3 linked regions of the Homo sapiens genome follow. The protein of the gene in region 3 purifies or fractionates together with the protein of the main gene of each other region. This does not show direct contact. Each region holds a gene or a part of one and is shown on either strand. Other genes may lie near its edges.

Evidence for each region.
Region 1: the proteins of ASB16 (region 3) and AHCY purify together in Homo sapiens (affinity purification with mass spectrometry, with the first as the bait; one large-scale study listed by BioGRID). This does not show direct contact.
Region 2: the proteins of ASB16 (region 3) and SVIL purify together in Homo sapiens (affinity purification with mass spectrometry, with the first as the bait; one large-scale study listed by BioGRID). This does not show direct contact.

Annotation. Positions count from the first base shown.
Region 1 is NC_000020.11:34,286,319-34,289,972, forward strand, and holds part of AHCY (adenosylhomocysteinase), read right to left. Parts: intron 1-3,654. UniProt on the Homo sapiens protein: Catalyzes the hydrolysis of S-adenosyl-L-homocysteine to form adenosine and homocysteine. Binds copper ions.
Region 2 is NC_000010.11:29,456,899-29,460,552, reverse strand, and holds the end of SVIL (supervillin), read left to right. Parts: intron 1-1,963; coding exon 1,964-2,119; exon of another isoform or gene 2,120-2,219; coding exon 2,220-2,306; 3' UTR 2,307-3,215; downstream 3,216-3,654.
Region 3 is NC_000017.11:44,173,703-44,176,796, reverse strand, and holds part of ASB16 (ankyrin repeat and SOCS box protein 16), read right to left. Parts: intron 825-3,094; exon of another isoform or gene 60-824; coding exon 1-59. UniProt on the Homo sapiens protein: May be a substrate-recognition component of a SCF-like ECS (Elongin-Cullin-SOCS-box protein) E3 ubiquitin-protein ligase complex which mediates the ubiquitination and subsequent proteasomal degradation of target proteins.

The sequences.
Region 1 (3,654 bases), on a different chromosome or scaffold from region 3:
AGTACTGCTGTCATCCCCATTTCAGATTCAGAAACTGAAGTTTACAAGGGTTAGGTCACTTGTCCAGAGCCACACACTAAGAGGAGGCTGCAATTTGAGTCTGGACGGTCTGAGGACAGATCCCATGTTCTCAATAACCATGAAATAGTTTTGAATGCAGCTTAGCAAAAGCTGAATGCCGTGGCGCTCACATTGGAATCACCTCAGAAGCTTTAAAAAATGAGGATACCCAGGCCAGACGCGGTGGCTCATGCCTGTAATCCCAGCACTTTGGGAGGCCAAGGCGGGGGGAATCACCTGAGGTCGGGAGTTCGGGACCAGCCTGAACAACATGGAGAAACCCTGTCTCTACTAAAAACACAAAATTAGCCAGGCATGGTAGCACATGCCTGTAATCCCAGCTACTCAGGAAGGCTGAGCCAGGCGAATCGCTTGAACCTGGGAAGCGGAGGTTGTGGTGAGCCAAGATCGCGCCATTGCACTCCAGCCTGGGCAACAAGAGCGAAACTCCGTCTCAAAAAAAAAAAAAAAAAAAAAAAAAGATACCTTGGCCTCATTCCCAGAGACTCCTATTCCTGTGGCCCACAGTGTGGCTCCCAGGTGACTGCCAAGGTTGAGAACTCCCGGTTTAGTGAGTGAACGTGACATGGAAATCCCCAGCCTCAGTGCCCCAGTCCTCCGTCTGTCCCAGCTGTCTGAACACACAAACTTGCTTTCTCCCCACTCCCAGCTCTTCCCTTGCCATCCCTCCACCCTCAGGCAGCCTCCCAAACATTTCCCCAAAAGCCCAGGTTTCCAAGCTGCTCCAGAGGCCTAGTACCGATCCAAGGAAAGGTCTCTGATGCCCATCAGGCATTGATTGATGCTTCAATCAATAAGCACTCACTGATACCCATCTAAGCCCCTTGCAGGGACACGTCAACCTGGACTCTACCCTCCTGGTACAACAGTGGGGTCAGAGACCAAAGCCAGTGATGGATGCTGCACTAGGGGTCTGTACTAAGAGTGTGGGCATTGCCTCTGCCAGAGGAGCTGGCCAGGAAGGGGGTCTCTTTTTTATTTTATTAATTTTTTTTTTTTTTTTTTTTCTGAGACGGAGTCTTACTCTGTCATCCAGGCTGGAGTACAGTGGTGTGATCTCAGCTCACTGCAACCTCCACCTCCTGGGTTCAAGCGATTCTCCTGCCTCAGCCTCCAGAGTAGCTGGGACTATACGCATGAGCCACCATGCCCAGCTAATTTTTTGTATTTTTAGTAGAGACAGGGTTTGACCATGTTGGCCAGGCTGGTCTCAAACTCCTGACCTCAAGTGATCCGCCTGCCTCGGCCTCCCAAAGTGCTGGAATTACAGGTGTGTGCCACCGTGCCTGGCCAGAAGGGGGTCTCTTGAGCTGGGCTGAGAAGATGAACAAGGAGAAGGGCATGTGTTCTGTTCCAGACAAATGCAGCTGTCTGGACAGATGAGCAGAAGTAGGAGCTGCAGTGGGTATTCAGGGAGTGGTCAATTATGGCCTGAGTACAGAGGCCCTTGAGAGGACGGACAAGAGATAATGTTGGGCAGAAGGTTGGCAAGACTGTCAAGGATGTTGAGGGTGGGCATAGAGTCCAGCTTTGGAGGGCAGCTTGGCAGAAAGGTGCCCATCACCCCAATGTAGCAGGTTTCACCTGTGATGCCTTTGCAAAAAGGAGGTCTAGACAGATGGCTGTCAGGGGTGTGGCTGCCACAGAAGCACGCCCTGGCCACCCCCACACTGTGATGAGTGCCAGGCCTTCTAGGCAGAGATGGAGGTGCCCTCTGCCTAGCCGGGAACTGACACCCTAGACTAGTGCAGGACCTAGCCAAGGAGAACTCCCACGCAGGAGCAGAGCACCCAAGAGGAGCAGTGTAGGGGATGTGGGTTCATAGAGCTGCCTGTCTGCCTCTCTGGGACTTGGGCTTCTGGTGTGGCTGTGACTGGGTGGGTGTCAGGGCTTTGGCCAACTCTGTGTCTGTATCTTCCTTATCATATCTCAAACACGGCACAGCACCAACTCAAAGAACCTCACATAGGTGGGCTTTTCTCCCTTTAAAAAATGTGGTGGACCTGGTGTGGCAGCTCACGCCTATAATCCCAGCACTTTGGGAGATAACTTAAGCTCAGGAGTTTGAGACCAGCCTGGGGAACACAGCAAGGCCTCGTCTCTACAAAAAATAAAAAGTTAGCCAGGTGTAGTAGTGCACATCTGTAGTCCCAGGTACTTGGAAGGCTGAGGCAGGAGGATCAGCTCCTTCAGCCCAGGAGGTCAAGGCTGCAGTGTGCCATGATCATGCCACTGCCCTCTAGCTTGGGTAACAGAGTGAGCCCATCTCAAAAAAAGAAAAAAAAAATGATGAACATCTCTACATACATATTTAATTATCCTAAGGACCAATTATAGGAGAGATTGCCCAGTCAAAGAGGTTGCTTAACTTTAAAGCTCTTGATATCCAAAGCCAAAATGTCTTCCAGAAACATACTACTTTTATAATCAGAGAAAAAAATAAACTCATAATAATTGCAACTCAAGTAAAACTTCACACCCCCTATAAGAACTCATCTTCCAGTTTCAGTGCCCCAATGCCCAATGCAAACCTGTTCTTTCCCAGCTCAGTGCATGGGCCTGCTCCTCACACAGTGATTCAAGCTGTGTCCCTTTTTGTTTTTTGTTTTTAGTTTTGTTTTTGAGATGGAGTCTCGCTCTGTTGCCCAGGCTGGAGTGCAATGGCGCAATCTCGGCTCACTGCAACCTCTGCCTACCACGTTTAAGCGATTCTCATGCCTCAGCCTCCCGAGTAGCTGGGATTACAGGCACCCACCACCATGCCCAGCTGATTTTTTTGTTTGTTTGTTTTTGAGACAGAGTCTCGCACTGTCACCCAGGCTGGAGTGCAGTGGAACAATCTCGGCTCACTACAACCTCCATCTCCCGGGTTCATGTGATTCTCCTGCCTCAGCCTCCCAAGTAGCTGGGATTGCAGGTGCACATCACCACACCCGGCTAACTTCTTGTATTTTTAGTAGAGACGGGGTTTCACTATGTTGGCCAGACTGGTCTCAAACTCCTGACCTCGTGATCTGCCCACCTAGGCCTCCCAAAGTGCTGGGATTACAGGCATGAGCCACTGTACCTGGCCTTTTTTTTTTTTTTTTTTTTGAGATGGAGTCTCACTCTTATTAACCAGGCAGGAGTGCGAGGGTGCGATCTCGGCTCACTGCAACCTCCGCCTCCCAGCTTCAAGCAATTCTCTCCTGCCTCAGCCTCCCAAATAGCTGGGATTACAGGTGCCCGCCACCACACCCGGCTAATTTTTCTATTTTTAGTAGAGATGGGGTTTCATCATATTGGTCAGGCTGGTCTCGAACCCCTGACCTCATGTGATCCGCCCGCCTCGACCTCCCAAAGTGCTGGGATTACAGGCATGAGCTACCGCACCCGGCCCAGCTAATTTTTTTGTATTTTTAGTAGAGACGGGGTTTCAACCATGTTGGCCAGGCTAGTCTCGAACTCCTGGCCTCAGGTGATCCGCCCATCTCGGCCTTCCAAAGTGCTGGGATTACAGGTGTGAGCCACCATGCCCGGCCAAAGCTGTGTCCTTTGTTACTCTGCCTCCATCCTGACCCCACATGCCGTCCA
Region 2 (3,654 bases), on a different chromosome or scaffold from region 3:
ATTTCAAGACTAGGAGAGTTAATTTCGACGTTTATTCCAAAGAAATCATAAACATCAGTTCTGTGGCACAGTTGAGCCACTTTCAGAAGGATATAACTCACCATCCTCCCTGTGTATTCACTATAGATCTTGGGGGTTAGCAGCGGGGCCATTTACTGTTGTGCAGGCCTGTGGGATTCCAGCCGGAGAAGAGTCAGGCTTCCCACACCAGCAAGTTATACAAATAATTAACATTCAGCAAGTGCCCACTCTGCACTAGGCACATCTCCAAGCACTTTACACTGATTTTCTCATTTATCACAACAGTCCATCAAGATATCTTATTATTATTCCCATTTTACTGGTGTGGGAGCAGAGACACAAAAACACGAAGTCACTTGGCCAAAGTGACTTTCAGTGAGTGGAGGAGTCAGTACTCAGACGCAGGCAAGATCATCCAAAATTCGCCTCTTCTTTTTTTAGAGAAAGGATCTTGCTTTGTCACCCAGGCTGCAGTGTGGTGACTCAATCATGGCTCACACAAACCTTGAACCCCTGGGCTCAAACGACCCTACCACCTCAGCCACCCCAAGTAGGTAGGACTACAGGTGCACACTTCCATGCCTAGCCTATTTTTGTATTCTTTATAGAGACAGGGTCTCATCATATTGCCCAAGCTGGTCTCCAACTCCTGGATTCAAGGACTCTTCCCACCTCAGCCTCCTACAGTGTTGAGATTACAGGCACAAGTCACTGCACCCAGCCCAAAACCTGCCTCTTGACCACCAGTCTGTTCCATGTATTTCTAATATGAGCAACAGCTCTTAGTCATGCATTCCCACCATCCACCCACCCAAAAGGAGAGCAGCCAATCTGGGGTCCCAAGTTTAATGGAGGAAGAGAATTTACCCAGAATAGTTTGTTCATATTCACACAGTGGTTTTAAAAACAAAAAAATTGATTCTGCTCCAGAATATTCTAGGTGCATTTTCTGACCTTCTTTTTCTATTGCAGATTAAGAAATGGGGCCAGGGGAGGGAAGGGGGGTGTGATTTCTTTTCAGGTTATTTTTTAATATTTATTTTTAAACAAATTCCATTATTTGGAGGCTTCTGGTGTTTAGACTTCAAATCTACTAATCTTAGTCCATAATTCACTCATGGGACAGTCCCTAAACATTTTTCCAGAGACAGTTCTGAGACAGGGTTTGTTTAAAACTCTGTGACAAGGTGAGAAAAGATCTATAAGTCAGAGAAACAAGACTCCATCATCTCTACAAAAAAATTTTTTAAATTATTAGGTGCGCGTGGTGGCACATGCCAATAGTGCCAGCTACTCAGGAGGCTTGAGGTGGGAGGACTGCTTGAGTCCAGGAGTTTAAGGCTGCAGAGAGCTATGATTGAGCCACTGCCCTCCAGCCTGGGTTACAGTGAGACACTGTCTCTAAAAAATAACAAAATTTGGGGTCAAGTGTGGTGGTTCACACCTGTAATCCCAGCAGGAGGATCGCTTGAGGCCAGAAGTTTGAGACCAGCCTAAGCAGTATAGCAAGACCCAGTCTCTACAAAAAAAAAAAAAAAAATGGAAAAGGAAAAATAAATTAGCCAGGCCTGGTGATGCATACTCATAGTCCCAGTTACTCAGGAGGCTGAGGCAGGAGGATCACTTGAGCCCAGGAGCTGGAGGCTGCAGTGAGCTATGATTGCACCACTGCACTCCAGCCTGAGTAGCAGAGTGAGACCTTGTCTCAAAAAATACCATTTTTTAATTTAAAATTTAAAAATTTTAAAAATTAAAAGTCCAGACAACTGCAGGGCTTTGGGCGATCCCTTTTCTTTCAGAGCCATTTCCTCCTCAGTGATATGGAACTATGCATCCTCAGGCAGTATGCAGGTGGCACAGGGCTGTGTGTCTGTAAGCACTTAATAAAACAAGTTCAAATGTAGGACACGAGCTCTCCTCTCTGCCCCCTCCTCTTCTCTAGGACACGGAAGTTTCCAATCAGATCACCCTCGTGGAAGACGTCTTAGCCAAGCTCTGTAAAACCATTTACCCGCTGGCCGACCTCCTGGCCAGGCCACTCCCGGAGGGGGTCGATCCTCTGAAGCTTGAGATCTATCTCACCGACGAAGACTTCGAGGTAAGCGGTTCTTCCGGTGGGGTGGGGATGGGAGTAAAACAACACACGCACGCCCGGCTCCTTTCACTGAGCCGCGGGGCGCTTCTCCCAATGTTTCCAGTTTGCACTAGACATGACGAGGGATGAATACAACGCCCTGCCCGCCTGGAAGCAGGTGAACCTGAAGAAAGCAAAAGGCCTGTTCTGAGTGGGGAGACGCCAGAGGAGCCTCACGGTCACGTCCAACAACACCACTGCACCAGGGAAATGGATATATATTTTTGGACTGGTGTTTTTCACAAAGTATTTTTCAATCAGAGTTTTCAGAACCTGACATTGTTAAAGATACTGCTTGTCCCGGAGTTGTGTATTTTGTAAATGTTCAAGGGAACTGTTTGGAAACTTCTTTCCACCATTCAGGAGGTTATCAGAATTAATAAAAGTATCTGTTATGTGCACTTAAGCCGCAGCTGCTATAGATAGCACTGCCTTCTTGTTCCAGCTAGGCAATGCCTTTTTTTTTTTTTTTTGAAGCAGTTCTCTTTATAAAGTGTTATTTTGATAGTTTGTGGATTCTAAAATATATATATATTTATATAAACACCATATAAGTCAAATATGTATTTAACAAAGCAATATGTATTCATTCACTTTCAAGATTTGTTTTGGTGTCAAAATAACATGAAAAGGTAGATGGAGTTGCTTCTGTTGAATTAGCTCTGCCACCAATATGTATCTTCATACACGTTTGGAAATGTTTCCTGCAGCATTAGGTATGACTTGTTCTGAGTACTGCTTCCGGTGCTAAAATGAACAAAGAATTTGTACTTAATGGCATGGACTCTGGAGAATCTATGCGAATCAACCTTTCTACCTTAATATCTCCCCAAAAATGTATAGTGCCTTGTTTTTATGTACAGTTTATATACAGAAAAGTTTGCTCTGCATTTTTGATGATGGTTTGGAACATTATCTACAATTTTACTCTCAAATAGTCAAAATAAAAACATCTCAATTTCTAATACCGGTTGTAAACAGTACACATGTCATTTTGTGATATAGGACTCCCAAATAAAAGTATCAGAATAAACACAACAATTAACTGGTTCACATTGAATTCCAAGCATGTTCCTTTCTGGAATTTTTTTTTTTTTTGGTAAATATTAACATAGCACCAAATTTTGTAATTAAGTATAAATGACTATACATTTGAATTTAGTTTAGGGCAAGATTTTATACAAGGTCATAAGATTAAATACAGAGTTATTTGCCCCATAAAATTAGTACTCAGTACTATAATGAAGACATACTTTTGCAAATCATCATTCAGCAGAAGTTCTTTATCCCACAGCTATATCTATCTACAATTTCAATTTTAGGATCTCAATGCCCTTTAAAAAATTGTATGGGCCAGGCGAGGTGGCCCACACCTGTAATCCCGGCACTCTGGGAGGCTGAGGCAGGCGGATCACCTGAGACCAGGAGTTCAACAGCAGCCTGGCCAACATGTTGAAACCCAGTCTCTACTAAAAATACAAAAATTAGGCATGGTGGCA
Region 3 (3,094 bases):
GGCTCTCGCCTGCTGCCAGGTTCACCGTCGCTCCTGCTTCCAGCAGCAACTTGGCGCACCTGGGGACAAGAGAGCAAGGTCCTGAGGAAAATCCTGAAGGCTTGGGACCCCTTCAGCTTGCTGTGACACTCCCTTGCCTTTCCACCCCTCTCAGCTTGAGGTCCTACCTGGTGTCCTCCATGAGAATCATACAAGCCCCGCTACAGACAACAGAATTGGAAGGTCCTGAGAGCTACCAGAAGCATCTTCAGTTTTCATATGAAAAACTTAAGCCCAGGAGTGATTTGTGCAGCCAAGGACACACAGCAAGTTAGTGGCTGCACCAGAAATAGTACTCACTGCCTCAGACAGTCCCTCCCACAGTCTACTCTGTCTCCACCCCAAGGTCTGGTTCTGAATCATTCAGTTGTCAGTTGTCTCCTTTTTTTTTTTTTTTTTTGGAGACAGGGTCTCTCTCTGTGGCCCAGGCTGAAGTGCAGTGGTGTGATTACAGCTCATGTAGCCTGGACCTCCCAAGCTCAAGCAATCCTCCTGCCTCTGCCTCCCAAGTAGCTGGGACCACAGGTGGGCAGCACCACACCTGGCTAATTTTTTAAATTTTTTTTTATAGAGACAGGGTCTTACCATTTGCCCCAGCTGGTCTCAAACCCCTGGGCTCAAGCAAGCCTCCTGCCTTGGCCTCCCAAAGTGCTGGGATTACAGGTGTGAGCCACCACACCCGGCCTTATCTCCTAACATTTTGATAGCACAAAATTTTGAAAACCCACTTCTGTGTACGTTATGAAGCATAGAAAATTAAACAGTATGCACCAAAAAAAAATAAATACAAGTTATAATATTTTCTTTCTGTCCCCACACTTAAAAGACCACTCTTCTAAACCAGGCCACAATCATTCAAGCAAAGGCAGGCACTTGGGGCCATCCTCCTCCACTTTCCCCTAGGGAAAACAAACAAAACCAAAGGAAAAACAAAAACAAAAACAGGTTTTAAAGAGTGCATGTTTCCCAGTTCCAGGGAAAATTATAGGCCAGAACACTGTTGTGGCAAACATGCATCCTTACATACTGCAGGGTAAACCAAACATGCAACAAACTAAATTAATAATGATGAAACCAAACTAACAGTAACTTATAATTAAAAAGCCAGAACGGCAGCTGCTGGAAACAGGAGCAGATCCACCATCCTCGATGAAACTCTGATAATCAAATACCCTTTCCCAAAATGGCCAAAATCCTTGCTCACATATTCCAGGTAGGTTCTTTGCTCTGTAGCCAAGATGTGAGTAGCAGCCAGTCTTCCATAAGCTACTGAATTATCTCCTTGGTAAATTCTAATTGTGGGGCTAATTTTTGTTTCCAAATACTAATTTTTTTTTTTTTTTTTTTTTTTTTTTTTAGATGGAGTCTCATTCTGTTGCCCAGGCTGGAGTGCAGTGGTGCGATCTCTGCTCACTGCAAGTTCCGCCTCCCGGGTTCCTGCCATTCTCCTGCCTCAGCCTCCCAAGTAGCTGGGACTACAGGCACCCATCACCATGCCCGGCTAATTTTTTTGTATTTTTTTAGTAGAGATGGGGTTTCACCGTGTTAGCCAGGATGGTCTCGATCTCCTGACCTCGTGATCCACCCACCTCGGCCTCCCAAAGTGCTGGGATTACAGGTGTGAGCCACCATGCCCAATCTTTTTTTTTTTTTTTTGAGGCAGAGTCTTGCTCTGTCGCCCAGGCTGGAGTGCAGTAGCTCCATCTTGGCTCACTGCAGTCTCTGCCTCCTGGGTTGAAGCAATTCTTCTGCCTCAGCCTCCTGAGTAGCTGGGACTGCAGGCATGCGCTGCCATGCCTGGCTAATTTTTGTATTTTTAGTAGAGACAGGGTTTCACCATGTTGGCCAGGATGGTCTTGATCTCCTGACCTCGTGATCTGCCTGCCTCAGCCTCCCAAAGTGCTGGGATTACAGGTGTTAGTCACCACGCCCGGCTTCCAAATACTAAATTTAACTAACACTCCAAAGCTCGCTCAGTAGGGTTCCAGTAAGTGGGGATTCTCATCTTACTTAGAAAGATGAAGTCTGTTGGAAGGCACACCACATGCCTGTAAGAACCCAAGAAAGGGCTGGCAAATGTGGACCACTTCTTGGACTTCATCTAGATCTAGTGGGGAGAGGTCCCCAGCTTGTGGGCAGTGGAGAGTCTTCCAGAAGCCCTTGAATCCTTACCTGCCACCCTGTCTGTTGACCTGATTGTGAAAGTGCAAATACCCTCATGCAGGGACTCCAAGAAACTGCCAACCTTAAAAAAAGTGGGAGGGTTGGTGTATTGGTTCATGCCTATAATCCCAACACTTTGGGAGGCTGGGGCAGGAGGATTGCCTGAGCTCAGGAGTCGGAGACCAGCCTGGGCCACATAGAGAGTCTATGTCTCTACTAAAAATAATACTTTTTAAAAAATAGCCAGTTGGGCCGGGCGCGGTGGCTCACGCCTGTAATCCCAGCACTTTGGGAGGCCGAGGCGGGTGGATCACGAGGTCAGGAGATCAAGACCATCCTGGCTAACACAGTGAAACCCCATCTCTACTAAAAATACAGAAAAAAAAAATTAGCCGGGCGTGTTGGCGGGAGCCTGTAGTCCCAGTTACTCGGGAGGCTCAGGCAGGAGAATGGCGGGAACCCGGGAGGCGGAGCTTGCAGTGAGCCGAGATCGGGCCACTACACTCCAGCCTGGGAGACAGAGCAAGACTCCGTCTCAAAAAAAAAAAAAAAAAAAATAGCCAGGTGTGGTAGCACTGGCCTGTGATTCCGGCTACCCTGGAAGCTGAGGCAGGAGGATCACTTGAGCCCAGGAGATCGAGGCTGCAAGTGAGTCATGATTGTGCCACTGCACTCCAGCCTGGGCAACAGAGTGAGACCCTGTCTCCAAAAAAAAAATCTAGCCCTGTGTTTCCTAACATCGGTGTGAGGCACCCCCATACCTCTCTTCCCACTTTTTTTTAAGACAGGGTCCCGCCCTGTTGTCCAGGTTGGAGTACAGTGGCAGCATGATCATAGCTCACTGAAGCCTAGACCTCTTGGGCTCAAATGCTTTTCCTGAGTAGCTGGGACT